6 separate regions of the Homo sapiens genome follow, and regions 1, 2, 3, 4 and 5 are each reported to be linked to region 6. Evidence: microRNA targets listed by miRTarBase, many of them from high-throughput screens and not tested one by one. Region 6 holds a microRNA gene; each other region holds the end of a gene's coding sequence.

Region 1 (4,947 bases), not on the chromosome of region 6:
TTGGTGTAAATCTGGGGGTGTAATGTTATCATATATCACTCTACCTCGTAAAACCGACACTGAAAGCTGCCGGACAACAAATCACAGGTCAAAATTATGAGTTCTTCGTATTATGTGAACGCGCTTTTTAGCAAATATACGGCGGGGGCTTCTCTGTTCCAAAATGCCGAGCCGACTTCTTGCTCCTTTGCTCCCAACTCACAGAGAAGCGGCTACGGGGCGGGCGCCGGCGCCTTCGCCTCGACCGTTCCGGGCTTATACAATGTCAACAGCCCCCTTTATCAGAGCCCCTTTGCGTCCGGCTACGGCCTGGGCGCCGACGCCTACGGCAACCTGCCCTGCGCCTCCTACGACCAAAACATCCCCGGGCTCTGCAGTGACCTCGCCAAAGGCGCCTGCGACAAGACGGACGAGGGCGCGCTGCATGGCGCGGCTGAGGCCAATTTCCGCATCTACCCCTGGATGCGGTCTTCAGGTAGGCGCAGTCGCTAGGCGGGCCAGGCTGGCGGAGCGGGACCGGGAGCGGGGAGCGCAGCGCTGGGGAGCGCGGAGCGCGGGGCGCGGGGCCGGAAGAGCGGAGCCAGGCTGTTGCGAGCCGGTAGCCCCGTGACTCCCGGCGCAGCCTTTCTGGTTTTAATTGGAGCGGAGGCGCCATTGCGTGGAGCCCATAGCATTGTATGTAAATGAGGCTCATAAAACTTTTTATGGCCCAATTAATGGGTTCGATCCTCGTAAATTTATTTAACTCCATTTGTCTTGGAATTTTAACATTAAGTTTGTTCGCTATTCTGTCTCTCTTTCTCCCTCCTCTGTCACCCTCCCTCCCTTTCTTCTTCTCTCTCTCCTCATTTTCCTTGCTGCCTGACATTTCTTTCTCAAAAGCTAGGAGAGCCAAGCCCTCCAGGGCCTCTCACCCGACCCTGTGCCAGGGTCCATTTCAAGATGGGGGCGAGGGAATGAGGACAGAGGGTCGGGGTGCCCTAGGAAGGTCCTGGGGATGAGGGCTCAGGCTGCTGGGAAGAGTCGCCCACTTGCCTAGCAAGGCAGGGGAATGGCCGGGCTCATCTTTGAATGGCAAAAGTGCAGCGTTTCCCACTTGCTCACACTCTATATTTACAGTTTTCCTTTGTCAGAGGAAGCAGGACATTGTGGAAGCTTAGCCGGCTGGAAAGGTCGGTTGTAAAGTTGAGATTCTGTGCCTTTGCTCATTACAGAGCTGCCTGCGCGTCTGGCACTGCAGTTGGGGTCTTTCCCTAACACTCCCCCTCCTCCCCTAGCTCAGTTCGGGGCCTGGGGCAGAGGGGGATGCTCGCTGGGGACTAGGCCAGGAGGAAGGTGCGGGCTCTGGGACAGCAGCCTAACGAGTGCCCTGTCTACTTGTCTGTCCTTGTGTTCATGTGTCTGCATGTCTGTTCTCAGGACCTGACAGGAAGCGGGGCCGCCAGACCTACACGCGCTACCAGACGCTGGAGCTGGAGAAGGAGTTCCACTTCAACCGCTACCTGACGCGGCGCCGCCGCATTGAAATCGCCCACGCGCTCTGCCTCACCGAGCGCCAGATTAAGATCTGGTTCCAGAACCGCCGCATGAAGTGGAAGAAAGAGCATAAGGACGAAGGTCCGACTGCCGCCGCAGCTCCCGAGGGCGCCGTGCCCTCTGCCGCCGCCACTGCTGCCGCGGACAAGGCCGACGAGGAGGACGATGATGAAGAAGAGGAAGACGAGGAGGAATGAGGGGCCGATCCGGGGCCCTCTCTGCACCGGACAGTCGGAAAAGCGTCTTTAAGAGACTCACTGGTTTTACTTACAAAAATGGGAAAAATAAAAGAAAATGTAAAAAACAAAAACAAAAACAAAAAAGCAACCCAGTCCCCAACCTGCACTCTACCCACCCCCATCACCTACTCCAGCTCCCAACTTTTGTGGACTGAGCGGCCGCAGAGACTGGGTCGCCTTGGATTCCCTCTGCCTCCGAGGACCCCAAAAGACACCCCCAACCCCAGGCCAGCCGGCCCTGCTCTGGCGCGTCCAAAATACTACCTAGCACAGGCCTCTGCTCGAGGCACCCCCAAACTACCTATGTATCCAGCCCCAGAGGGCCTCCATTCCCAGGAAGTCCCTATGTATCCCAACACTGGCAGACACCCAGCACCACCCTCCCAGACCCGCAAGAAAGTGAATCTCACTACTACCTACTCCCCTAAAACTACCTATTTTGTGCTGGCTGGCTTGCCTGCTACCTAGTGCCGACTGCTCCCAGGCAAGTCCCCTGCTGCTTACAGCCCGCAGCTTTTGGGGTCCCTGAGGCTGCCCTGAGAATGTGCTGAGGTCCAGGATCAGGGTATTGGCATCTATTTAAATCGAAAAATAATATATTTATTCCAAAAAGCATCCTAAGTGCTTGCACCCTAGAATCAATCCCTCCTTCTCTGGCTTGGCACCCACAGCTCAGGCCCATCAACCCCCACTTCTGGAGGGGAATGTTCCTGAGCTGGCTGCAGATCTGTGGGTTAGCTTCTGCTTAGCAGGACTGTGGAGATGCTTCCAGCTTCGCTGTCCTTTCCTCTGGCTCCTGTATCTTACTGTTCAGCTGTGTTAAATATGTACGCCCTGATGTTTCCTATAATAGCAGATACTGTATATTTGAACAAGATTTTTTTTTATCATTTCTATAGTCTTGGAGTTCATTTGTAAGGCAGTGTCTTGACTTGGAAAGGATGTGTTAATGGGGTGACTTTGTAGCATGGTATGTTGTCTTGAGTTAACTGTAGTGGGTGGGGAGGTCCAATGCCCTCCGCAATGCCCTTCATCTCCTGTGTTGTCCTGTACCCTGCTCAGCTCCATCCTGGGGTTCAGGGAAGGCACACTTCCCAGCCCAGCTGTGTTTTATGTAACCGAAAATAAAGATGCGTGGTGACAAAGAAAAATGTGGACTGCCTTATCCAGAGGGGACTGGGAAAGGGGAGGTGAGTATGGCTGGAGGGCAGGGGGCAGTGGGGAAGCAAAAGTGGGGTGGCTGTCCTTGTGATGGTCCAAGTGTTGGGTACCCATGTATTGGTGTCATGTATCTTTTTAATGTATTTTTATGTGTGTATTTGTATGAGTATGTGCTTATTTTTCTGTGTATGTATTTCTGTGTGTGTGTTTTTACCTAATTCCACAATTGTATATATTTTGGTGTCCATAATTGGGTGCATGTGTTTTTGTGTGTCCATAATTGCATGTCATTCTGTGCCCACAATAGAGTGTATGCCCTTCCCTGTGTGCATAATTGTATATGTGCCTTTATCCGTGTAGAGACGTTTGTCTGGTTTTTGCGTGTGCACTAACATCTTCTAGATCCCTTGAAAACGGAATCTTTGGTAGATACGTTATATTCTATGAATCTACCTAAAAACCTCCATCAATTCCATGAGGAAATTTCAAATCCACACTTTCCTCTAAGGCTGAGCAGTGGGCTTGGAAAGGGGCATTACCCAGAGCTGATTCCGGATTCGCATGCGCCCTGAACCCAGCCCCAGGCTAGGAAATGGGATTTAAGGTCCCCACCCCGCCTGCAGACCAGGCGAGGGGGCCCCAGGGTCCGGCACTGCAGTAGGTGGCGCGGGGAGGGGCTAGGACCGCAGACCCCCGCTAGGCTACGCAGCCTGGGCAGGGGCTGGGGCAGCTGGATGCGGGGAAGGGGCGAGGGGTGAAGGTCCAGGGGTTGTGCGGGCAGCTCAGAGCATCCTGAGTTCCGCCTGCAAGACCTCGTCTCCAGTCTCCTGCCTGGGCTGGGCCCGCTTCTTATGGCTCTTTTAGTAAAACCTGGCCCAAAAGGGTCTGTAAAACCTGAGGCCCCAAGTCGGGGCGGCCTCGGTGGTAAGATGGCGCCGGTGTAAGAGCTGCCTCCTCTCAGTGATGGGGAAAGGGTCATAAATCCGTTGTTGTTTATGAAAATTTACAACTTTGCAATACAACTTTATGAGTTGTTCGGCCCTTCCATTGGCCGCTGTCGGTCATGTGGATGAGAACCGTGAACATGAACTTTTTTATAATTTCCCTTGCGAGAATAGAGCCGCATTCTTTTGCTCCGCTCCGTCCTGCCTGCTTCGGAGCTCTGCCTTCCAGCCGGGCTCGGCTGTGCTTTGTCCGGAGATGGCGAGCGAAGGGAAGCCCCGGCCAGGCCAGGCCTGGCGGCTCCCGCTGGAGATTGGGCGCGCTCCGTTCCCGGCGCCGCGGCAGCAGCTTTGCAACTCGCAACCTGGCTAATTTCCTGCGTCCTCTGGCACCAGGAAAGAGGACAATTCTTCTCTCGGGCTGCCCAAGCGACAGCTGTCAGAGGGGCAGGAGCTTCTGGGAGCCACCGTCTGAAGGTGAGACATGTGGGGAGGAGATAGGAGCAAAGGTGGTGAGGCGACAGCCGGCGGCGGTAGCGGTGGGAGAGGGCACCCAGGGAGGCTTTAAGAGGGGCATACTCCCCCTTACCCATACTCACCCATTCACACTTGCCCCCATCACACACTACAGCCCACACACGTCACACACACAGGCACACACGCGCGCACGCACACACACACACACACCACTCCCTTTCTCTCCCCTCCCTGGCTCGCCTTGGCAGTAAGTGCCCGCCTTCCTTCGGCCCTCCGTGGCACAGCGCCAAGGCACAGGGCAGCATCCCTTGGGTCGTCTCTCTCCCCTTCCCTAGCGACCCCGTGAAGCCCAAAAGGAAGTGGCCCGGCACACTGTGTTCCCCGCCAGCCCTTTGGGTTTGGATTTTTGTGTTTTCATTCATGGCCCTATTTGGTTTTGTTGGATTCCCCAACAAGAGGAGACCATCCTTGACCTGGGAAGGTGGGAAGAGGTGAGGGCAAAGTGCATTAATCCACAGGCATTTTATTAGCATCAGCACAGCACTTTCTACTCCGTGGGAATTGGTTTCAGAGAGAAAGGTAGAAGGGGGAAA
Region 2 (4,983 bases), not on the chromosome of region 6:
GGGCACAGAGAGAGGGGTTAGGGCCAGGGTTGGGGGCACAGGCAGAGGGGTCGGGGCCAGGATGGAGGAGGCCCAGGCAGAGGGGTGAGGGCTGGGGTGGGGGGCACAGAGAGAGGGTTTGGGACCAGGACTGGGGGAGTGGGCAGGTAGAGGGGTCGGGGCTGGGGTTGGGGGCACAGGCAGAGGGGTCAGGGCTGGGATGGAGGAGGTACAGGCAGAGGGGTCAGGGCTGGGATGGGGGGGCACAGGCAGAGGGGTCAGGGCTGGGATGGAGGAGGCCCAGGCAGAGGGGTCAGGGCCAGGGTCGGGGGGCACAGGCAGAGGGGTCAGGGCTGGGGTGGGGATGCCCAGAGGAAGCCTCTGCCCTAGCGGGAAGGGCCAAGGAAGATGTTCTGGAAATGGGGGCATCTGAGATGAGACCTCAGGAATGAACAGGAGCCATTCTGCCGGGAACAGTGTTTTGCAAATGAGACCACCGGGGCCTCCCTTTCAGCTTTCGTTCTCAGAGGGCCCCTCCACCTGGCCCTGTTCTGGCCCCCGAGGATTCTGTGGGAAGCAGTGGAGTCCCACAGATCTCGCTCCACACTCTGCTCCCTGATCCCGGGGCTCCTCCGACTCCCCCTGCCTCTCACACTCCTTCCCATCCTCCCCTCCCACTCAGAAACTCTTTGTGGTCCCCGCGGATGAGGCCCAGGCTCGAATCCCATATGCCCGTGTCAACCACAACAAGTACATGGTGACTGAACGCGCCACCTACATCGGTGAGTGTCTTGAGCACCACGGGGCGCTGAAGAAGAGGGGGTTCAGACACCAGGGGCGGCCCCCCGAGGGTGCCCTTATGCTCCACCCATTCCTCTCTAGGAACCTCCAACTGGTCTGGCAACTACTTCACGGAGACGGCGGGCACCTCGCTGCTGGTGACGCAGAATGGGAGGGGCGGCCTGCGGAGCCAGCTGGAGGCCATTTTCCTGAGGGACTGGGACTCCCCTTACAGCCATGACCTTGACACCTCAGCTGACAGCGTGGGCAACGCCTGCCGCCTGCTCTGAGGCCCGATCCAGTGGGCAGGCCAAGGCCTGCTGGGCCCCCGCGGACCCAGGTGCTCTGGGTCACGGTCCCTGTCCCCGCGCCCCCGCTTCTGTCTGCCCCATTGTGGCTCCTCAGGCTCTCTCCCCTGCTCTCCCACCTCTACCTCCACCCCCACCGGCCTGACGCTGTGGCCCCGGGACCCAGCAGAGCTGGGGGAGGGATCAGCCCCCAAAGAAATGGGGGTGCATGCTGGGCCTGGCCCCCTGGCCCACCCCCACTTTCCAGGGCAAAAAGGGCCCAGGGTTATAATAAGTAAATAACTTGTCTGTACAGCCTGTGCCTGACTGAGTGGTGTGAGATGGGGTGCAGGGGTAGGGGACAGCTGGCATGGGCCTCTGGTGGGGACATCTTTTTGTGCTGAGCCCTCAACATGTCACTGGCATGTGCTGAGCCCTCAGTGTGTGACCAGTGTGGGTTAGCATGTACTGAGCCCTCAGCATGTGCTGGCATGGGTTGGCATGTGCTGAGCCCTTAACATGTAGTGTACATGGGCTGACCTGTGCTGAGCATGCAGCGTGCCACCCTGTGGCCCGGCATGGACTTAGCACTCATGTAGCCAGCATGGGTATGTGCTGCAGAGAAGCATGTTCCCAGATTGATCAGCAGGGACCAAACCATTGCCACATCCCAAGGGTGAACAAGCATGGCTGAGCACCAGAGTGTGCACCAAGTGTGAATTTAGGCCTGCCAAGTGGATTTACACCCAGCACGTCCCAAATGTGGGTGAGTGCATGCCAACCCTGTAAACATGTAGGAAGGACAGGTCAACAGACAAGGAGACCCCAGCATCCGGCAAACTTGATTAACACATACTGAACACAGCATGTTCTGAGGGTGGATTCCCAACACGCCAAGCACATAGCGTATTTAGGACAAGGGTTAGTCAACCAAGCACAGCTTTTCCCTCCTAGTGTGACAGCAGCCCAGGCTCCCGCCTAAGCCAGTGGTCAACTGGGCCCAGCATCGCAGAGCAAGTCACTGGGTGCCAGCCTGGAGCCCCCATTCCCCCCAGGGCCAGTCCAAGCCCCAGGCAGTGAGAGCAGGCTTGAAGCAGGACTGCTGAACAGTTCTATATTGAAATAGACAGAGGCAGCAGGGCCAAGGGCGAGCGCAGGGCCAGCGGGGTGCAGCCCCCTTTCCTGCTGTCCTTCTGGCCAAGGAGCATGGGCCAGACTCCAAAGCCCTGCTGTGTTTAGGAGAGGTGTGCAGGCACGCACCGCACCGCAGACGGGGAATGAGAATTTCTGGATAACTATCTTTCTGTAAGAATAATTTGTGGGTTCAGGAGATGGCTCTGAGGAGCAGTTCAGGTTGGGAGGGAATGCCAGCCCAGCTAGCGCAGCCCCCAGTGATGGGCAGGGGTGGAATCACCATCAGTGGTGCCCGGTGACATGCTGGAGGAAGCTGGTGGCCCCCCGGGGTGGACCATGCTGGTGGGAGCGGCGGGGTGGGAGCCCCTGAGCCCGTGGGCCCCTGACGCTCTCCAGGGTGCAGTCTGGCTCACTCAGCCATTCTCCAGGACAGCTGCTGGGGTCGAAGAGCTCAGGGTCTGGCCTCTGTGGGGGAAGAGAGAGGGGCATCAGCCAAGCAGTGTTAGTGTATTAGTGTCTGCTGAGCCTCTGTCACCTCCTCCTGATGAGGGTGAGCATGTGCTAGGGTCTTACCAGTGCTGGGCCTTTATTGCCCCTTTGTAGTGATGTGATGACAGCTCACTGCAGCCTCGACCTCCCTGGCTCAAGTGATCCTCCCACCTCAGCCTCCTGAGTAGCTGGGACTACAGGTGCATGCCACCAAAACCAGCTAATATTTCTAATTTTTTGGTGCAGACGGGATCTCACTATGTTGCCCAGGCTCTTTATCAAGCTTCTTATAAGTAGATTACTGTGCCCTGAGTTTTTGTCACAGCCTGGAAGTAGCTGAGTAAGTGCTGAGCCTTATCATATCTTGACGGTATTAGGTGTGTGCTGAGCCTCCTAAGTCCCTAATTGTATCCTGAACATGGGTGAGTGTGTGTTGAGCCTCCTCACACACTAATCATATCCTGAGCACGGGTGAGTGTGTGCTGAGCCTCCTCCCACCCTAATCGTATCCTGAACGCACCCGGCTCACCTCAGCTTCCATGGTCATGTTGTCAATGTTGGGCCCATCCTCATCTCGCTGCAGGATGGCCAGTGGCTCAGCAGAGGCCCCGAGATGCTCTCCTTCCTCCCAGCTGCTGCCCCGGCAGGGCCTGTCATCCTCAGGCGAGACCTGGCTCAGCCGAATGAGGTTGCTGAAGTTGGAGTCGGACTTGGAACCCGCAGGTGGCTTGCGGGCCTTGTGGCGGCCTGCCAGGCGGCTGCTGTAGAAGGCCAGGATGGGCTCAGGGCCCGAGTCGGGCACATGGTGGCCAGTGATGGCTGCCTTGAGGGGGACCATCATGTCGGAGACCGCATTGGTGCAGGTCTCACCCCACAGCCCATGCCCAGCCTCCTGCAGACTCAGGTCATCCAGCTGGTCGATGGCTCTTTGCATACCTGGTGCCTTCTCCTCTCGGAAGAAGGGGCTGCTGCCGGCCACACTGCCCATACCCGCAGCCTCCTTCTCCTCAGCCAGACAGTAGTAGGGGGTCCCATCTTCTGCGGCCACGACGGGCGTGGGGGGCTTCCCCTCCACTTGCAGCGAGAGGCGGTAGCTGCGCAGCGAGAGCTGGTAGTAGTGGGTGGTCTCGTGGGCACTGCGCAGCTGCTGCATGGACACGAAGGGGTGGCGCAGGGCAGCACTGGGGCTGATGCGTTCGTGTGACTCCCAGGTCAGCATGCGCTTGATCAGCTCCACCATGCTCTTGAGGTCGGCGTGCTCCGCCAGCGCCTCCCGGTCAGGGAAGGTTAGCCGACTGGCCACACTGCCACCATTCACTGTCTCAATCTGGTCCAACGACTTGAGCATATACTTGCGGCGCTCCAATGGGCGCACCTGGCGGGGCATGGAGAAGGGGGCAGGGTTGACCATTGTGCAGGGCTAGGGCCCTGGGCACTCCTGCTGTGGCACCCACATGTAGCCCCGACTTCCAGGTCTGCCCATGATCTGCCTTGGAGCTCTCTGGCTGCTAGGAGGGCCACCCTGGATCCGTCACACCCAAGCCCCTCTAATCGAACCCAAATCACTGGCCCAAGTTCCACCCCTTGCCCCAGACCTCCAGTCCCCTTCAGCACCATGGGTGCAGCCCCTACCAGCAGCTAGCAGAAGGGCTGCCCGGAATCTCTAGTCCTCCCTGGAATCAAATCCAGGTCCCTCTTACTGCCACAGCTCCACACTTGATCCCAGGCCTCCTGGTGGTCAAACCCAGACCCTTCTTGCTATAGTAGTTTGTCACCCCCTGCTATTAAACTGCCATTGACTTTTAGTCTCACCTGTGGTCCCATCCAGACCCTTCTTGCTGTGAAATCAAGACCTATGACCTCAAACTCCTAGTCCCCTCTGCTGTCTAACCCAGGCTCTTGCTGCACAGATGGGAGGGGCAAAGCCACAGAGGTAGCAGACTGGCTGCTGCCCCAAACCTCTAGACTCACCTGAGGTCTCACTCAGATCCTTTTTTTTTTTTTTTTTTTTTTTTTTTTGTATGTGTGTGAGACAGAGTTTCACTCTTGTTGCCCAGGCTGGAGTGCAGTGGTACAATCTCGGCTCACTGCAACCTCCACCTCCCAGGTTCAAGCGATTCTCCTGCCTCAGCCTCCTGAGCAGCTGGAATTACAGGTGTCCACCACCATGCCCAGCTAATTTTTGTATTTTTAGTAGAGATGGGGTTTCACCATGTTGGCCAGGCTGTTCTCGAACTCCTGACCTCAGGTGATCCACCCACCTCGGCCTCCCAAAGTGCTGGGATTACAGGTGTGAGCCACTGTGCCTGGCCTT
Region 3 (4,983 bases), not on the chromosome of region 6:
TATTTGGAAGAATGCCAATTAGAGTGGCTTGTCTTGCTTCTACTCCTCAACCCCTGACATTCTACAGTTCTACCCCAAACCCCCTTCCAGAGGCCTCTGGGAAGGCTGCCTCAGGGCAAACCCAAGATGGCAACAGCCTCTGGTTTGATCAGTCGAGGAGAGCTCTGCTGCATGTTTGAACAAGAAGAGCAGCTTCTATGAGATGGCTTCATAGTTCTATAATGAGGATTTTAGAAGTCTAGGAAATGGGCAAGCAGCCTGTGTCCTTGGGAACTGCCTGCTGCACATCCAGCAAAGGGAGGTCCTTGCCATGGCCTCACTGCTTCTCCTGGAAAAGGTGGATTTGAGCCCCTCACATCCCCCCAGGTGGAACAACACAGAACTGCGGCTGCTGAGACTGGCCACAACCTCAGTCTTCTTCACGCCTACTTTTTTTTGTTTTTTGAGACAGAGTCTCACTCTGTCGCTCAGGCTGGAGTGCAGAGCGCAGTGGCACAGTCTCAGCTCACTACAACCTCTGCCTCCTGGGTTCAAGGTGATTCTCCTGCCTCAGCCTCCCGAGCAACTGGGATTACAGGTGTGCCCCACCACGGACCCAGCTAATTTTTGTATTTTTAGTAGAGACAGGGTCTCACCAGGTTGACCAGGCTGGTCTCGAACTCCTGAACTCATGAAGCCCACCAAAGTGCTGGGATTACAGACATGAGCCATCGTGCCCAGTCTAAACCCACAATTTTTAACAGAACAGACCAATCTAGGGGAAAGCCAGTAGGAGAAACTAATAGACAATTTGACAATAAAGAATCCAGGTGTGGTAAAAAATGATTTATTTTTGAAGCATGGTTAACAGCTATGCAACTAGGAACATTTCATTTACCTGTCCCATCTATGTTTTTCTGTCACAAAGACATATACTAAGACTTTGGAAAAATTCCAAAGGGGATTACACTTGAAATGTGCTGTGTTTTCACTTTTTTTTTTGTACTTGTCTTATTCACAGTGAATCAAATAAAACAGCTTTACAGCTTACTAAAACTCAAACTTGTTCTCAAAGGAAGCAGTTTAAACATTTTCAACTGAAAAATCAGCAACACAATGATTCTACATCAGGAAATCGAACCAGGGAGACAAAAAGCAGCTCTAATAGAAAGCGTGTCTTGTCAAAAGGTTAAAAATAAAAATAAAGGCCCGGGGCCAGGCGCGGTGGCTCACGCCTATAATCCCAGCACTTTGGGAGGCTGAGGCGGGGATCACAAGGTCAGGAGATCGAGACCATCCTGGCTAACACGGTGAAACCCCATCTCTACTAAAAATACAAAAAGTTAGCCAGATGTGGTGGCGGGCGCCTGTAGTCCCAGCTACTTGGGAGGCTGAGGCAGGAGAATGGCATGAACCTGGGAGGCAGTGGAGCATGTAGTGAGCCAAGATTGCGCCACTGCACTCCAGCCTGGGTGACAGAGCGAGACTCCGTTTCAAAAATAATAATAATAAAAATTAAAATAAAAAAAATAAAGGCCCGTTGAGGTGGCTCATGCCTGTAATCCCAACGCTTTGGGTCTTTACAAAAAATAGAAAAAATTAGCTGGACGTGGTGGCACAACTGTAGTCCCAGCTACTCAGGAGGCTGAGGCACAAGGATTGCTTGAGCCTGGGAAGTCAAAGCTGCAGTGAGCCCTGATTGCACTACTGCACTCCAGCCTGGGTGACAGATGACAGAGCGGAACCCTGCCCCCTCCTCCCCCACCAAAAAAACCCACACATATTATGAGGAAAATCCAACTTATTTACAAAGAATGGGTCATCTTCAGGCCTGAGATCCCAATATGTTATGGTAAAATTGTGGGTGCACCGTCCTCTTTGGAAAAAGGGGGTAAGGAACAGATCTGGCTCAATCCATGCTAAGAATCTGGTTTTAAAAGATCAAAGAAGTTTCAGAGAAAAACCTAACATCACTGTATGCCCCAGGGGTGTCATTTACCATGAATGAAAGGGCTGGGAACGCACTCTCCCTGAGGTGCCCCCCAGGCCTGCCAACATCTCATGAAATCTGGTAGTAAACTGGCAAGAGTTCCCTCTGCACCAGCAGGCTGCAGGAAGTTTGTGGGGCTGGGGGCTGGTCTTCTCTGGTCTTCCCCTGGGAAGTGCCTCCCGCTTTCCCCAAACTGCCAAGCTACCAAGCCCTCTAGTGAACAAATGAGCCATAGTCTGGAGGGCTGGCATGGTAACCAGAATGGGTGGATGCTGCCAGGAGAGGCCAGGGCCCCTGAGGATTCGGGGGTCGGCACTCTGGCAGCACCATCTCACTTCTTAGCCATTGCAAATGAGTAGGCCCTTTCTCCTCAAACCCAGAGCAGTAGCTGGCTAGAAGAAACGGCACCAGGAAGGTGGCAATAAACTCTGACTGAGCTCATGTCAGTTTTCTCCTAACCCACCTGTAGATTTGAGAGCAAAAGTCCTGACTCATCCAGCCCCAGTGTAACTGTGAAGTGCGGCTGTCATGTTTACAGTCCCAGTTACTCAGGAGGCTGAGGCAGGGGGATCACTTGAATCCAGGAGTTTGAGGCTGCAGTGAGCTATGATCACACTACTATACTCCAGACAGAGTGACAGAGTGAGACTCTGTCTTTTTTTTTTTTTTAAGACGGAGTCTCGCTCTGCTGCCCAGGCTGGAGTGCAGTGGCATGATCTCAACTCACTGCAACCTCCGCCTCCCAGGTTCAAGTGATTCTCCTGCCTCAGCCTCCTGAGTAGCTGGGACTACAGGTGTATGCCACCATGCCTGGCTAAATTTTTGTATTTTTAGTAGAGACAGGGTTTCACCATGTTGGCCAGGCTGGTCTCGAACTCCTGACCTCAAGTGATCTGCCTGCCTCAGCCTTCCAAAGTGCTGGGATTACAGGCATGAGCCACCATGCCGGGCCGAGACTCTGTCTGTTTAAAAAAAGAAGAAGAAGAAGAAGTAAAAGAAGGCAGCTCAGCTGGTACAGTAGAAAGCCTATTCTGGAAACTGCCATGATGGATGGCTAATAAAATATTGGAGATACTTAACCCTTAGCCAAACAGTATGTGTCTGTGTGGTGTGTGTGAGTATGTACATGTATGATAGACTGTGTGTGTGTGTGTGTGTGTGTGTGTGTGTTTGTGTGGTGGGGGTATGTGTGTGAAGGCCCCAGAAGGTGGCCCTGGGACAAAGCGCTCCTACCACTTGTCCCCAGCATAGGACAGCCACACAATTCAGAGCACAGGAGAGCCCACACCTGGAGGCTGGGCTGCCCTTGCGGGTGGGGTTAGCAATAGCTAACATGAAAACTTCCAGATAGCAAACCTCCCCTGGCCACCTGACTACATATTTCAAACATTACCTGAAGCAATGAAATTCAAGAGCATTCATAGTCTTTTTTAAACTTCTGACTACGACCCACATTGAGGTTAGTTACATGGCTGCCAAGGGGGTGGGGACACAGGATAGGTAACAAGAGTTCAGACTCAGCCTGATGGCACAGGGTGCGCTTTGCCCTGTCCCAGTCCACTGTGTTTGTGGTGGTGACCCACTAAATTGATTTTGTGACCCACTTGTGGGTTCTACTGCAGCTTGGACCCGCAGTCTCCGTGCACATGGAAAATCATTCCCTCCACGGAAGTGGGTGGACCTCCCCGCAGCAGGCCCCGGCCTCAGTGAGGATCACCAAGTGCCACCAGGCCCCCACAACCCCGCTCAGGAGGAGGAAGCAGGCTTCCCTGACCATCTTTAAAGAAAAGGGGGCACCATGATGGGCCCACTCAGGTCCAGGCTGGCAACCACAGGTCCACCCGTCCAAGACGCAAGGCGAGGCTGGGCCATTCCCTGCAAGTGCGTGTTGGTCCCTTAGGGCTTGCCCAGGGGCGCCCCCGCGCTCTGGCATCTCTGTACCAGGAGGATGAGCCTGGCGAGGTCTGAGAGCTCCGGGAACGCGGCCATCACGCGGTCCACCTGGTCACGCGGGAAGACGCTGTAGAGCGCGATGCGAGCCCGGGCGCGCGCGTCCCCCTCGTCGTCCTCGGTCGCGTACACTGAAAGTCCCCCAGTGGCGCCGTCGCCCCAGGCCGGCTCCGCCCAGACGGAGCGCCCAGGGAAGCGGTCGGAGCGGGGTGGACGGGCCCACGGGTCGTCGGGTGGCCTGCGCGGGGAAAGCAAGTCGCCGTGCAGGTCCCTAGGGCGGTGTTCGCCCCGCGGCTGGAGCTGCAGGCCGGGCGGAGGCGGGAGGTCGCCCGGGGAGAACTGGCTCTCCGGGCTAGGGAGGCTGAGCGGGCCTGGCACCCGGCCGCCCGCGGACACCCAGTCGGGCCCGCCCAGTCGGGGCGTGAGGCTGCAGGCGGGGACCGGGAGAGGCGGCCCCAGGGGCCCCAGGTCGTCGCTGAAGGCCAGCCGAGAGAAGCTCCCTCGCAGGGCGGCCAGGTCCGGGGACCCCCGCGCCGGCGGGAGGCTGTGCGCAAATGGTTCCCGGGGGGCCGCCCGGGCTCCTGCGGAGCCGCCCGGGGCTCTCGGTGGCCGCTGCTCCTCGGCGCCCGCGCCAGGCCGGGCCCCTGTCTTGGCGCGGAGCTCGTCGGCCACCGCCAGTTGCGCGTGGTGCGGCCTCTCCGGGTGGTAGAACTTGCACTTGATGCCATAGGTGCATTTCTTGCCTGAAAGGGGCGGGGGCAGAGAGGGCGCGACGTGAGGCCCGGGGGCGCGGAGGGGCGGTGGTTCCTGGTGCATCCGGGGAGTGCCGGCCCGCGGCCTCTCCGTGGAGATTCCTCCAAGCAGGCCCCCAGGCCGCCGCGGACTCCTCAGACTCAGCGCCCTGGAAACGCCTCAAGATCTGGGCGCGGGGCCGAGGTGGGGAGAAGTGCCCGGGAGGCGCGGGCGGCCTGGGTGAGGGGGCGCTGAGCACACTCATCCCAGGGTATGCAGAGGAGTGTCGTTCCCAGGTCCCTTTGACCAGGGACTAAGACCAAATCTCTGGA
Region 4 (4,983 bases), not on the chromosome of region 6:
GAAGAGTTGCAATAATGCAGAGAACTCCCAAATAACCTTAACTCAGACTCACCAGTTCTTAACCGTTGCCATATTATTTCTCTTTCACTTTTTTCTGAACCATTTAGAAGTAGGCTTGAAAGAGTCATTTTGTCTATAATTTCCTATGTTCCATATCTTCCTGTATTTCTTCCTGTTTCTTTTTGGGGGTACAGAATATAGGATGAGACACTTTTTAGTTTTAAAATATCTGATTCTAGATGTTTTTAGTATCTCCAGATGCTTGCTTGAGTATATTTACTTCTGTTGTGTTAGTTTTCTTCTGCTCCTTTGACTTCTAGTCACCTTGGACTCCCAGGACTCCAGCTCCATCTCCATCTCCTAAACTTGTAGAGACTGCCCAGCATCTCCTTATGCGCAGGTGGATTTTTTTCCTAGTCTGTCTTTATACAGGGGGTTCAACCCTTTGGGGTTCCAGCTTTAGACAGGGGCCCAGGTTCCAACCATCACCCTCAAGCCACCCAGGCCTGTCTTCATGGGGGCTGTAAACGAGCCCCAGAGCTGTCCTAGCATCAGTTTCCAGGTGGGAAGCTCTGACTTTCATTTCGGTCTTCATTTTTACCCCTGAGGTGTTCCCTTGCTCTCTTGGTGCTTAACCATGCATTGTCCTACTAACATCCTCAGTCCCAGGGTCCACAGCAAGTACGTGTCACAACAGCCCTTAGAGCCACCCACAAGCCCTCCCATGCCCCGGTGCTTCCTTCCATTCTACGTAAATGTGAGGCCTGTGGGCCTCTTAAGGGAGGCATCATTGTGGGACCTTTCCAGTAGATCAGAAGGAGAAAACAATTTTAATGTACCCAGTGTGCTCATGGACAGAGCAGAAGCAGAACACAAGGTTCACATTTACGCAAAGCACATTCTTGGCACTGTTTCCTTTCTCTGCCTCCTTCACCTCTCTTCCTTCCTTCCCAAGTACATCCTAAGCACCTGTTCTGTATCGTGTGCTGGAGATAAAAAGGTGCATAAGACAACATCTCTGACAGCAGAGAGTTCTCCGTATAATGTAGGGTAACGAGGTAGAAAGGAAAATGTAAGTTGAAATGGTGGGGATATGAATGTTGTGCTGTGGGATACAAGGGTAAAAGAGTTATTTTTTAGACGTGGGGGAGGTGTTTTTTTCCCCCATTTTAGAGCTGGAGAAAAAGAGACCCAAGAAGATTCAGTGTTTTCCCTGAGGTCAGAGTGAATCCATTTCAGAGGGAGACAGGACCCTCCAGGTGAGCCTGTGCTATCCACTCCCTCTTTTGTGTGGACCATTCCACATGGACCACACTAAGGCTGGCAATTCCCACACTTGGAAGAGGTTCTGTGATAAGAATTTTAATAATAAAGTGGGGGAGACAGAACCTGAGCGGGGGAATAAGCGCAGCAAATCACAGAATGGATGTTAAACCAAATGTAGCGGTGACCCCAAATTCCCTAAGAAAACAGTAAGGCCAGGCGCCGTGGCTCACGCCTGTAAGACCTGCACTTTGGAAGGGCAAGGTGGGTGGATCGCTTGACTCCAAGAGTTCAAGACCAGCCTGGGCAACATGGTGTGACACCATCTTTACAAAAAATTAAAAAATTATCTGGGTATGGTGGTGTGTGCCTGTAGTCCCAGCTACTTGGGAGCTGAGGTCGGAGGGTTGCTTGAGCCCAGGAAGTCAAGGCTGCAGTGACCTGTGATCGCTTCACTGCACTCCAGCCTGGGTGATAAGAGTGAGACACTGTCTCAAAAGAAAAAAAGAAAACAAAGATGGAATGAGAGATTAACTAAGGTAGGCTCCTTGAAGGGGGGAAATATTTCAGTTAGACCTGGAGGGAATGAAAGGTAGATTTGAAAAAAGATTCTTGGCCGGGCACGGTGGTTCATGCCTGTAATCCCAGCACTTTGGGAGGCCGAGGCGGGCGGATAACGAGGTCAGGAGATTGAGACCATCCTGGCTAACACAGTGAAACCCCGTCTCTACTAAAAAATACAAAAAATTAGCTGGGCGTGGTGGCGGGCGCCTGTAGTCCCAGCTACTTGGGAGGCTGAGGCAGGAGAATGGTGTGAACCCAGGAGGTGGAGCTTGCAGCGAGTAGAGATTGCGCCATTGCACTCCAGCCTGGGCGACAGAATGAGACTCCGTCTCAAAAAAAAAAAAAGAAAAGAAAAGAAAAGAAAAAAGATTCTTGCAGGTAGAGTCTCAGAATTGAAAATCAGAGGCCGGGCGTGGTGGCTCACACCTGTAATCCTAGCACTTTGGGAGGCTGAGGAGGGCGGATTATGGGGTCAGGAGTTTGAGACCACCCTGGCCAACATGGTGAAACCCCGTCTCTAAGAAAAATACAAAAATTAGCTGGGCGTGGTGGCACGCGTCTGTAGTCCCAGCTACTCGGGAGGCTGAGGCAGAAGAATCGCTTGAACCTGGGAGGCGGAGGTTGCAGTGAGTTGAGATCGTGCCACTGCACTCCAGCCTGGGTGACAACGCGAGACTTTGTTTCAGAAAAAAGGAGAAAAAAAAAAAGAATTGAAGATCAGAATTTCACAGGTGATCACACTCTGAGAAACTACTACAGTGTTATTCAAACTTCCCAATGAAACTCTTTAAATAGATGCTTACTGATCAAACCATGGTCAATAGGAGAATGCAAATTAAAACCATGGATACCACTACATCTCCACTAAAATAGCTAGAATATTAAAAAATGGACAATACTGCTGGGCACGTTGGCTTATGCCTGTAATCCCAGCGCTTTGGGAGGCTGAGGTGGGTGGATCACCTGAGGTCGGGAGTTGGAGACCAGCCTGACCAACATAGAGAAACCCCGTCTCTACTAAAAATACAAAATTAGCCGGGCGTGGTGGTGCATGCCTCTAATCCCAGCTTCTCAGGAGGCTGAGGCAGGAGAACCGTTTGAATTGAACCCGGGAGGCGGAGGTTGTGGTGAGCCGTGATCGCGCCATTGCACTCCAGCCTGGGCAACAAGAGCAAAACTCCGCCTCGGAAAAAAAAAAAAAAAAAAAAGGACAATACCAAGATCTGGTGAGGATTCAAAGCAACTAAACTCACACATCATCAGTGGGGATATACAACTGACTTTGTAAAAGTTTGGCAGTTTCTTAAAATGTTAAACATAAGCTTACCATATGACCCAGCAATCCCACTCCTATTTACCCAAGATAACTGAAAAGTTAGATTCACAAAACAGCCTGTAGTTGATACACAGTGATGGCAGCTTTAATCATAGTTGCCCATACTGAAAATGCCCAAATACCCTGCCATGGGTGAACGGATAAACAAATGGCTCCATCCATACAATGGAATGCTACTCGGTGCAAAAAAGCACTCTACACAGGCAATATGGATGACTCCAATGCATCATGTTCAGTAAAAGCAGCCACGTGCAAACAGCTGCACACTATTTCTGGAAATGGTGAGGTGATGGATAGAGGATAGAAAACAAACCAGTGGTTTCCACGGACTGGGGTTGAGGAGGGGTTAACCACAAGAGAGCACAAAGGAATTCTGGGTGGTGGTGAAGATGTTCAATGTCTGGAATGTGGTAGTGGCACAATTGTATGTTTTTGTCAAAGCCCAAAGAACTATACACTAAAAAGAGTAAATTTTATTGTTTATAAATTATGCTTCAATAAACCTGCCTTTAAAAAATTTTTTATCAGTAATTACAATTTTCAAAAGTGGAGATACTTGGTAGGCCCCTGCTTTCTTGGCCCCTAAGGTCCCTCTCTCTGTTAAACTGTAGAGCTCCTTAGAACCAAAACCAAACCACCTTTCATTTTAATGAAAATGAAATGCAAAAACTGGGGCTCCAAGCAAGGAAGAAACGTCTACCTGCAGTTCATCTGGGGGTTGGTGGGAGAGGTGGTGGAGAGAGTAAGGCTAAGCGCCCCCAGCAGGCCCAAGTTCTCTGTACCACACTTGGAGGCAGGTATATGGGACTGAAAGTGGATGTTCTCAGCCACAAGCCTGGGCCTGGATAGGAAACAAAGGATAAGACTGGAAGGATGTCAGGTAGGGTAGACCCAGAGCACCAGCTGGGCTCACTTTTCACGCCCTCCATCCATTCGTCATGAGTATCCGGATACAGCACCACACGGTTCAACTCCTGAGCACAGCAGTAACCTTTACACAGACAGCCTGATTTCCCAGAATGAATTCTCGTGTTTACTTCCAGATTTAATGACTTTGACTTTAGTAGTCATCTGAACTATTTATTTTACTTTGCCAGTAATATTTAGACCTTATATATCTTTCATTATGCCATCTTATCTTCTAATGTCAAGTGAACAGTTGCTAAACTGTCTTCTGCATTTATCACATTAAAAATGTCTTTCTTGGAAAATCTTCTTGATATGAATAAAGTATCTTTTAGAGCCATCATTTAAAGCAGGTTTCTCTCCAACACGAGTCTGCTGAGGTGGTGTGAGCTGTGAACTCTGGCTGAAGGCTTTCCCATACACACTGCAATGACATGGTTTCTGACCAGTGTGAGTTACCTGATGTTGAATAAGGGTTGACTTTCCACTGAAGGCGTTTCCACATTCTTGACATTTATAGGGCTTTTCCCCAGCATGCATTATCTGATCTTCAGTGGGTCGTGAGGTGGGACTGAAAGCTTTTCCATATTCATTACATCCAAAGGATTTCTCACCAGTGTGAACTGTCCAGCGCAGAATGAGATTTGCACCATGGTTAAAGGCTCTGCCGTGCTTCTCTCCAGTGGGAATCTGTCCATCTGCTGTGAGGCTGGAGCCATGAACAAAGGCTGGACCATGTTTTCTGCACTTACGAGTCTCTCCGCTGTGAACTTTCTGATGCTGAATGAGGGTTGACCTCCGGCTGAAGGCCTTCCCACAGTCACCACAGTCATAGGGCTTCTCTCCAGTGTGAACTCGCTGATGTAGGGTGAGCTGGGAGCTCTGGCTGAAAGCTTTCCCACATTCAACGCACT
Region 5 (4,983 bases), not on the chromosome of region 6:
CCATGTGGGTGAGGCAAGACTTGGGTCTGCCCTCGGGTGGGGGAGGCATGTGCCCAAGACCCTCTTTTGACCCCTAGATGCTGAAACACTGCGCCAACTTCCCTCGGGCCCTGGAAGTCCTGCTTAATGCCTATCCTTGTGTCCCATCCTGTGAGACCTGGGTGGAGGCGGTGCTCCCAGAGCTGTGGAAGGTATGTTTGCCTCAGGGCCGAGATGGGGAGGAGGGACGAGCCACAGGCCTATTCCTTCAGGACCAGCCTCATGGAGGGAGCAGCAGGAGGGCCCCTGGGTAGAGAGGATGGGTAGAGTGGCACCCCTGGGTTTCAGGGTACCCCCTCCCCCGGTACCCCAGGCTGACCCCTAACTCCACACACCTCTCCTGCCTCCCTCACTTGCATCAGCACAGACATTTATCTGGCATCTCTTAACTTGGTGGGCACTGTGCTAGGCTCTCTGGGGTGGGAGTGGTATAGACATAGTGGAGACCCTTCCCTGAAGTGGAGCCCCAGCCCGCATTATCACTGCAGGGCCTCTATGGTTCTGAATCTGAGTCCTTTGAGACACATGAAACACCCAGGTGGGTGCATGCTGCAAAATCCCAGGACCCCCACCGCTGGGTTGCCCCCAGATGGTAGGGCAAGGGTCATCTGACCTTCTTTCACTCCTGGCCTAGGAGCACGAAGCCTTCTACAGCTCGGCCCTGTGCATGGTGAACCAGCCAAGGCAGCTGCAGCACCTGGCCCGACTAGCTGTGCGCGCTCGGTTGGGAAGCCGCTGCCGGCAGGGTGCCACCCGGCTGCCACTGCCCCCGCTCCTCAGGGACTACCTGCTGCTGCGTGTGGAGGGGTGCATCCAGTGAACCCCATGTCAGGCTGTCCCATGGTGTGTTCTGCCCCTCCCACCTGTCCCCGCCTCCAACTGCGGAGGACCAGTTCCTGGCCCTCTTTTCTTTTCTTTTTGAGACCTAGTCTCACTCTGTTGCCCAGGCTGGAGTGCAGTGGCGCTATCTCGGCTCACTGCAACTTCTACCACCTAGGTTCAAGCGATTCTTGTGCCCCAAACTTCCGAGTAGCTGGGACTACAGGCATGAGTCACCACACCTGGCTGATTTTGTATTTTTAGTAGAGACAGGGTCTCACCATGTTGGCCAGGCTGGTCTCACACTGACCTCAGGTGATCCACCCGCCTTGGCCTCCCAAAGTGTTGGGATTACAGGCATGAGCCACTGCGCCTGGTTGCCTGCCCCTCTTTTCTGTACTCCACGTGCTGTCCTGGTCCACCTCACTCCTCCATGGGCTTCTTGAGACACCTGCTGACCTCTAGCCGGACCTGAGCTTCAGACCCTCTCTCCAGCAGGAAGGGCTGCAGACTCGGCCTGTTCCCAGACTCGGCCTTCACCTCCCTTCTCCTCCTGTGTTTAAGTGGATGGCCCCTCTATCCATCCAGGTCCCATGCCAAGAACCAGTGATTCTAGTGGCCCACCACCTCCCTCTCCTGCCACCCTTATACCTGTTCAGCCTCCTAAAGAGGGACAAACTCTGTCTCTGCGTGCACTGGCTTGCCTGCCCTGCCTTTGTCACTCCAAGGGAGATCTTGAGACCCATGCCCTGAATTGGTGCTGGAATGGTCTTTGGGAGTCAAACTCTGATCATGCCCTCCAGTGGCTCCTCTCACACTAAAATCAAAACTCTTTAAAACAAGCTGAGTGCAGTGGCTTACACCTGTAATCCCAGCACTTTGGGAGACTGAGGCGGGAGGATCACCTGAGGTCAGGAGTTTGAGACCAACCTGACCAACATGGTAAAACCCTGTCTCTACTAAAAATACAAAAAATTAGGCCAGGCGCAGTGGTTCATGCCTGTAATCCCAGCACTTTGGGAGGCCGAGGTGGGCGGATCACGAGGTCAGGAGTTCTAGACCAGCCTGGCCAACATGGTGAAACCCTGTCTCTACTAAAAATACAAAAATTAGCCGGGCATAGTGGCGGATGCCTGTAATCTCAGCTACTCAGGAGGTTGAAGCAGGAGAATCACTTGAACCTGGGAGGTGGAGGTTGCAATGAGCCAAGATCGCGCACCGCTGTACTCCAGCCTGGGCAACAGAGCGGGACTCCGTCTTAAAAAAAAAAAAAAAAAAAAGTCTTCCGTGAGGAGCGCAGAGGAGGTCGCGGCGCCGGAGGCCCCAGAAGGCTCGAAGGCACCGCGGGCTGGGGTCGGTGGCTTAGGGAGCCCGTCTGGCCATGGTGGCCGCGGGTGGTGGTTGGCGCGGCTGCGCTGCGGCCCGGGGCAGTGCGGACTGGGACAGTCGCGGCGCTGACGCCCGCGGGCCCCAGCTGCAGATATGAAGCGGAGCCGCTGCCGCGACCGACCGCAGCCGCCGCCGCCCGACCGCCGGGAGGATGGAGTTCAGCGGGCAGCGGAGCTGTCTCAGTCTTTGCCGCCGCGCCGGCGAGCGCCGCCCGGGAGGCAGCGGCTGGAGGAGCGGACGGGCCCCGCGGGGCCCGAGGGCAAGGAGCAGCCGCCTGCCTTGGCCTCCCAAAGTGCCGAGATTGCAGCCTCTGCCCGGCTGCCACCCCGTCTGGGAAGTGAGGAGCGTCTCTGCCTGGCCGCCCATCGTCTGGGATGTGAGGAGCCCCTCTGCCTGGCTGCCCAGTCTGGAAAGTGAGGAGCGTCTCCGCCCGGCCGCCATCCCATCTAGGAAGTGAGGAGCGCCTCTTCCCAGCCGCCATCACATCTAGGAAGTGAGGAGCGTCTCTGCCCGGCCGCCCATCGTCTGAGATGTGGGGAGCGCCTCTGCCCCGCCGCCCCATCTGGGATGTGAGGAGCGCCTCTGCCCGGCCGAGACCCCGTCTGGGAGGTGAGGAGCGTCTCTGCACGGCCGCCCCGTCTGAGAAGTGAGGAGACCCTCTGCCTGGCAACCACCCCGTCTGAGAAGTGAGGAGCCTCTCCGCCCGGCAGCCACCCCATCTGGGAAGTGAGGAGCGTCTCCGCCGGGCAGCCACCCCATCCGGGAGGGAGGTGGGGGGGGGGTCAGCCCCCCGCCCGGCCAGCCGCCCCATCCGGGAGGGAGGTGGGGGGTCAGCCCCCCCGCCCGGCCAGCCGTGCCATCCGGGAGGGAGGTGGGGGGGTCAGCCCCCCGCCTGGCCAGCCGTGCCGTCCGGGAGGGAGGTGGGGGGGTCAGCCCCCCGCCCGGCCAGCCGCCCCGTCCGGGAGGTGAGGGGCGCCTCTGCCCGGCCGCCCCTACTGGGAAGTGAGGAGCCCCTCAGCCCGGCCAGCCACCCCGTCCGCGAGGGAGATGGGGGGGTCAGCCCCCCCACCCGGCCAGCCGCCCCGTCCGGGAGGGAGGTAGGGGGGTCAGCCCCCCGCCTGGCCAGCCGCCCCGTCCGGGAGGGAGGTGTGGGGGGTCAGCCCTCCGCCCGGCCAGCCGCCCCGTCTGGGAGGTGAGGGGCGCCTCTGCCCAGCCGCCCCTACTGGGAAGTGAGGAGCCCCTCTGCCCGGCCAGCCGCCCTGTCCGGGAGGGAGGTGGGGGGTCAGCCCCCCGCCCGGCCAGCCGCCCTGTCCGGGAGGGAGGTGGGGGGGTCAGCCCCCCGCCCGGCCAGCCGCCCTGTCCGGGAGGGAGGTGGGGGGTCAGCCCCCCGCCCGGCCAGCCGCCCTGTCCGGGAGGGAGGTGGGGGGGGGTCGGCCCCCCTGCCTGGCCAGCCGCCCCGTCCGGGAGGTGAGGGGCGCCTCTGCCCGGCCGCCCCTACTGGGAAGTGAGGAGCCCCTCTGCCCGGCCACCACCCCGTCTGGGAGGTGTGCCCAACAGCTCATTGAGAACGGGCCAGGATGACAATGGCGGCTTTGTGGAATAGAAAGGCGGGAAAGGTGGGGAAAAGATTGAGAAATCGGATGGTTGCCGTGTCTGTGTAGAAAGAAGTAGACATGGGAGACTTTTCATTTTGTTCTGCACTAAGAAAAATTCCTCTGCCTTGGGATCCTGTTGATCTGTGACCTTACCCCCAACCCTGTGCTCTCTGAAACATGTGCTGTGTCCACTCAGGGTTAAAAAAAAAAAAAAAAAAAAAAAAGCCAAGCAAGCGTGGTGGCGCATACCTGTAGTCCCAGCTACTTAGGAGGCTGAGGCAGGAGAATTGCTTGAACCCGGGAGGCGGAGGTTGCAGTGAGCCAAGACCACGCTATTGCATTCCAGCCTGGGTGACAAGAGCAAAACTCTGTCTCAAAAAACAAAACAAAACAAACGAGAAAACAACTCAGTAGAACAGAGCCTCTAGCCTCTGCCAAATTATCTGGCCTCTTGACTTCCCTTCTTCCTTCCAAGGTTCATCTCCAGCCTTAGTAAACAAGTCACCAGTTGCTGGATGTGACCTGCTCCTCTTTGCTTTCAGGTGTTTGCATGTGTTATTCCTACCGCTTGGAATACTCTTCCACATTTTTTGGCCTGGTCAAGGCTGATCTGGCCCTCAGGACTCAGTTCCAATAGCACTATCTCTGCAGAGGCTTCCTTGGTACTTATTTAAGTGCCTGTGGTTGTCTCAACTAGGCTGAGACTGGAACTATATTCCTTGAACAGGTATTTTAGTAAATGACTGCGGAAGGAGGAACATCCATGAGCCTGGGGTCCATCTATGTGCTCCCTCCGTCCCCAAGTGATGAATGGTGTCTTAAACAGTGGTCACCACATACAGTCTCTGAGGGCCCAGCCACCAACTGCCCGAATTCCCCAACTTCTTCCTCTTGTCCCAGAGTCAAAAGTACCACAATACAGCTTTTGGAGGAAGCTTTTCAAAGCAAGCCAGTTTTTATGAGTGCAAATAAATGATTAGTCCATGGAACCAAAGTATGGATGTTGTTTGACTTAAATGGGACAGAGGTCCCCATCATTCCATGTTCATTCCCCACCCCCTGGTGCTGTTCTGTGGTTTCCAAGTTTTCTGCATTGAGCAACTGTTACAAGAACAACACAAGGGCCAGGTGCCGTGTAGTC
Region 6 (4,000 bases):
GCTGGAGGCCAATCACACCTACCTGGAGGCCTTTCCATTTCAGGGGCTGGTGGGGAGGCTCCTGGGGTTGGGGTCGTGGCCTCTGAGCTAGGGATGCTGGTGGAGGAGGCAGCAGCAACAACTGTAGTGGCAGTCTCCTCAGTGGAGTTGACTGAAGTGGCAGGCCGGGGGGGCCTGGGAAGAGAAGGGACGAGAGGCGGGCCTGGCCTTGGCATCCAAGGTTGGGCAGATTCTCCTGCCCTTGGTGAGCCTTGCAGAACAGAGTATAGAATGATGTGCCCTTGTGGCCCCAGTGCCTGGCAAACACAAGTGAACATGCTGAATGAACTCAGACAGGGTGACTGGACTCAAGGGCCAAATGATTCTATCCCTTAGCTGTAAGGTGCTTGCAGGCAGGGACTGTTGACCTGTTCACTCTTACCCTGCAGTCTCCACCCTGGGGAGTCAGGCACCTTATAGGGGACTCACTCAATAAGCCACAGTGCTCGAGCCTTGGACTCAAGTTCCTCTCCAAGCCTGTGCTGTCACTGCTAGATGCCAGGCATTATGTACATGTCACTTTTTTAAAAGACAGCGTCTCGGCTCTGTCACCAAAGCTGGAATTTAGTGGCACAATCATAGCTCACTGCACCCTCAAATTCCTAGGCTCAAACAATCCTCCTGCCTCAGCCTTCCAAAGTGCTGATTATAGGTGTGTATCTGGCAGTACACATCACTTATGAATATGAATTAAGACCCCTTTATTCAAATAATGAGAGGTCAAAAATGAGTGATGGGACCAGCGCTTGAACTTGAGCCAGGATGGCTCCAAGTGACTTCCTATTATTCGCTCCCTCAGTTTGGGGGCAGCAATTGCCAATCTAAGTGTCACCACATCTCAGAAGAATATCATGTGATGAACTAAAGCACTGCAAATTCTGAATAATTTGACTTTAGAAAAATATAAAGGAATAAGATCTAAAGTCAGCTCTCGAATAAACATCACTCCTACTTAGATCCAGACATGCTTTCTGGAGTGGGAAATAAAGGCACCAGGAGTTACCAAGAACTCCTGGAGACCCTTGGTGGGCCTGTAGATAGGCAGCCTGAATTGGCAGGTGTCAAAGGCCAAGAACCACTGCTGGGGACCTCTTGGCAGCTCCACTCCTGACCCACCAAACCCACTCTGCTTCCCCTGTACAGACACACCCCAAGGAGGCCAGCACGGTGAGGTACTGGTTGATCTGCAGCATGGCGGCGTCCAGCAGTGTGTGGATGTTACGCAGGCTCTGCAGCCGGGCCTCCAGGTGCTGCCGCTCATGGCCCTCCAGAGCTCGTAGCTCCTCTGGGGTCAGCCCAGCAAAGCCCGCAGGGGGCACAGGCATTGGGGGGAAGGCTGGAGAGAGAGAGGCTCAGTCTGGGCTGCTGGGGCCAGACACCAACCTCACCCCCAAGAAGAACCCAGAGAGTGGCCCAGCTTACCAAAGGGTGGAGGCAGGGGCATACCCATCCAGGGAGGAGGGAAGGGGAAACCAGGGGCAGGGCCAGCCTCTGGGGCAGAGCCAGAGCCTGGGCCAGATGCTGTGGCAGAAGCAGCAGTAGCACTGGTGCCAGCAGCTGTGGTTGTAGCTGCTCCACTGGGCCGAGAAAGGGCTGCTGAAGAGCAGGAACGAAGTCAGTGAGTGTTCCATCCCTGCCGCCCCCTGGCTGTCACAGTACCCAAAGGCTCACCTGCACTGGTGGATGGAGGAGCCACAGCCTCTCCTGAGCTGGGGGGAGGCGGGACAGGTGGAAAGGGGCCCATGGGGGGCCACAGTGGGAACATGCCTGGAGGAAAAGGAGGCAGGAGGCCCTGGGGGACTGCAGAGAGAAGACGGAGGTAAGGAAAGGGCCAAATGGACACAGACCCAACTCCCAGGCAGGGGGCCTGGCTATTGAGAGCTCTGTCCTATTCCCACAGGCCCTCAGCCCAGCACTGGTCACACTGACTGCAAGCATCTATTTCTCATCTTTTAATCCCTCCCTGGCCCAGACTGAGATTCTGGAGGGCAGGGACTCTCCAATTTCCCAGCATCTTCCACATCCAGCCCAGGGCAAGTATCCAGTGGTATGCCGGGTGGCCAGACAAGGGGATACTCACAGTTGGGGGGCTGAGGCAAGAGTGGTGGGGGGTGGGGGGCAGGGGGTGGCCCCTGATCCGCAGGCTCCGGGGGTGGTGGTGACTGCGCTGGCAGCGATGCACGAAGGACATCCATACGGCAGGTGGGGCAGGTCTGCTGCCGCTGGAACCAGGAGCGCAGGCAGCTGCGGGTCAAGGCCAGGCAGAGGTCAGCAGGTCCCTAGGGGCCTGCCTTCTGGGGCCTGTGCCCTGCTGTGCAGGCTCCCCAGGGCCCCTCCCACCTGGTATGGAAAATGTGGTTGCAGGGCAGTCTCTTGGCACCAGTCACCATCTCTTCTCGGCAGATGATGCAGACATTGTCCATTGCCTGGAGCTCCTCTGGGGTGGCATCTGGATACCTGGTTAGGATGACAGGGGCTGTATCAGGTCCAGAGCTGGAAGCAGAGGGACCCAGGACCGAGCTTGGGACAGCAGCCATGACAAGCCTACTTACAGGGTGTTCATGTTGCGGATGGCTCGGCGAGACATGATGGCATCTGTCACAGCTTTCTTGAACTGTCTGAAAGGACAGTCAGTGAAAGCAGGAGAAGGGACGGGATCAGGTCAGGAGGATCGGGGGACAGGGCCGGGCTCACCTCATGGCCAGGTACATGGGCCGGATGGCAAAGAGTGGGAAGGTGTGCACCTTGATCATGATGGTCATGAAGGCCATGTACAGCAGAACCTTGATGAAGCCTGAGGGGAGGGGATGCAGAAAGCAGCAGGTCACAGGGCCAGGAGGCAGAGTGGAGGATGCTGGTCCAGATCAGGAGAGGCCCAGGCCCCTCTCACCTGTAAACAGCTCTGTGTAGAGCATGTACACAGCCTTGTTGTCCCAGGGGTTCTCACTCTGGAGGTCCACGGAGTGCAGCACATACTTGATGAAGATGGTGAGCACCATCGTCATCAGGATGGCATACTGAAGGGAGAGGGGGACGAGGGGGATGTAAACACATAGCTCCCCCTTGCTGCACCCACATTGCTCCCCAAGGCCTCTGCACAGCAGGTGCAGTGGTACAATCACAGGCTCTAGACACACCCAGGGTCCTCCTAGCCCCTCCACTTACTAGCTGTGACTTTTGGCAACTCAGTGAACCTCAGTTTACTTATCTATAAAATGACATAATTAACTGTTCCTTTATAACAGTATTGTCTTGCTGAATAAGAGATGCAGGTCAGGAGCTCAGCATAGGGCCTGGTGTGAAATTCGCACTCAACAAATATGAGCTGTTGTCACTGAACACATTCTCTCTCTGCCAGGGACACGCCTCCAGTTGTCCATGGAACTAATCCTCTCCTGTCCATTACCAGCTAGCTCCGGCACGAGCCTCCAGGAACCCTCTCCTGAGCCCCAGGTTGGGGCTCCTCCTCTGTCCTAGCCTCTTTGTGCGTCTCCCCAGTCACCTAGGAGTGAGCGTGTGGAGGGCAGGAGCCATATCTGATCACTGCCCCTTGGTGGCCAGCACAGGTTGGCCACATAGCAGGTGCTGAGGAAGGGTCTGTTGGGTTATTCAAGGCACATGTGGGGTCACCTCGGGCTTGTCCTCTCAACCTCCCAAGCCAGTTTTACCTCAAAGCCAAACACCAGCTGCACAGAGGCCCCACGGGTCAGGATGCTGTGATAGGCGTGGCTGACGAAGAGGAAGTCCAGGATGCCCAGGAGGAACATAAGAGCTGTGGGGACCCCCACACATGCAGGGTGGGGGGGTCAGCCCAGGGCCCAACAGCTGTTTAATGCTCTAGGACAGCCCCACCCTCAAGCCCACCATGGCCCCAGCGATCTAGTCAGGTGGGCACACTCCACTGAACCTGGCCCTCTGGGAACTTCCTGGGGGAGGGGGAGTTGTTGGGGCTGCCCAGGCT

Evidence for each region. The annotated mature microRNA hsa-miR-6751-5p reads UUGGGGGUGAGGUUGGUGUCUGG and lies in region 6 at 1,411-1,433, opposite strand. An mRNA with a match to its seed (bases 2 to 7 or 8) in the 3' UTR can be bound and repressed. Matches are read on the target gene's strand: a 7mer-m8 pairs with bases 2 to 8, a 7mer-A1 pairs with bases 2 to 7 and ends in A, and an 8mer does both.
Region 1: the mRNA of HOXA7 is a reported target of hsa-miR-6751-5p. Seed matches in the 3' UTR shown: 7mer-m8 at 1,890-1,896, 8mer at 1,989-1,996, 8mer at 2,064-2,071 and 7mer-m8 at 2,460-2,466.
Region 2: the mRNA of PLD3 is a reported target of hsa-miR-6751-5p. Seed matches in the 3' UTR shown: 7mer-m8 at 1,197-1,203, 7mer-A1 at 1,255-1,261 and 7mer-m8 at 1,300-1,306.
Region 3: the mRNA of ZC3H12D is a reported target of hsa-miR-6751-5p. Seed matches in the 3' UTR shown: 7mer-m8 at 3,148-3,154.
Region 4: miRTarBase lists ZNF251 as a target of hsa-miR-6751-5p. Seed matches in the 3' UTR shown: 7mer-m8 at 3,876-3,882.
Region 5: the mRNA of ASB16 is a reported target of hsa-miR-6751-5p. The part of its 3' UTR that is shown has no 7-base or 8-base seed match.

The regions. Positions count from the first base shown.
Region 1 is chr7:27,151,695-27,156,641 of GRCh38, reverse strand. HOXA7 (homeobox A7) reads left to right here. Exons shown (of 2, transcript NM_006896.4): 1 at 1-475; 2 at 1,420-2,926. The coding sequence starts at 97. The coding sequence ends at 1,733. HOXA3 (homeobox A3) reads left to right here and starts at 4,059. Exons shown (of 6, transcript NM_153631.3): 1 at 4,059-4,354. HOXA-AS3 (HOXA cluster antisense RNA 3) reads right to left here. Exons shown (of 3, transcript NR_038832.1): 3 at 714-4,348. RefSeq lists an enhancer at 1,539-2,123.
Region 2 is chr19:40,377,125-40,382,107 of GRCh38, forward strand. It overlaps PLD3 (phospholipase D family member 3), which reads left to right. Exons shown (of 13, transcript NM_012268.4): 12 at 662-761; 13 at 862-1,361. The coding sequence ends at 1,049. It overlaps HIPK4 (homeodomain interacting protein kinase 4), which reads right to left. Exons shown (of 4, transcript NM_144685.5): 3 at 3,199-4,044; 4 at 2,147-2,645. The coding sequence ends at 2,463. Among named protein-coding and RNA genes, the nearest start is that of MIR6796, 9.8 kb to the left of the region's middle.
Region 3 is chr6:149,446,818-149,451,800 of GRCh38, forward strand. ZC3H12D (zinc finger CCCH-type containing 12D) reads right to left here. Exons shown (of 6, transcript NM_207360.3): 6 at 1-4,662. The coding sequence ends at 3,866. Among named protein-coding and RNA genes, the nearest start is that of ZC3H12D, 36 kb to the right of the region's middle. RefSeq lists enhancers at 4,350-4,901, 4,902-4,983.
Region 4 is chr8:144,717,293-144,722,275 of GRCh38, forward strand. ZNF251 (zinc finger protein 251) reads right to left here. Exons shown (of 5, transcript NM_138367.2): 5 at 3,617-4,983. The coding sequence ends at 4,352. Among named protein-coding and RNA genes, the nearest start is that of ARHGAP39, 34 kb to the left of the region's middle.
Region 5 is chr17:44,177,532-44,182,514 of GRCh38, forward strand. ASB16 (ankyrin repeat and SOCS box containing 16) reads left to right here. Exons shown (of 5, transcript NM_080863.5): 4 at 78-191; 5 at 674-1,553. The coding sequence ends at 859. It overlaps ASB16-AS1 (ASB16 antisense RNA 1), which reads right to left. Exons shown (of 3, transcript NR_049730.1): 2 at 4,092-4,189. Among named protein-coding and RNA genes, the nearest start is that of ASB16-AS1, 6.7 kb to the right of the region's middle.
Region 6 is chr11:65,128,541-65,132,540 of GRCh38, forward strand. It overlaps MIR6751 (microRNA 6751), which reads right to left and starts at 1,438; the gene lies at 1,376-1,438. SYVN1 (synoviolin 1) reads right to left here. Exons shown (of 16, transcript NM_172230.3): 6 at 3,708-3,811; 7 at 2,930-3,056; 8 at 2,734-2,833; 9 at 2,592-2,657; 10 at 2,380-2,496; 11 at 2,120-2,283; 12 at 1,711-1,839; 13 at 1,462-1,635; 14 at 1,189-1,375; 15 at 23-174. RefSeq lists an enhancer at 3,810-3,859.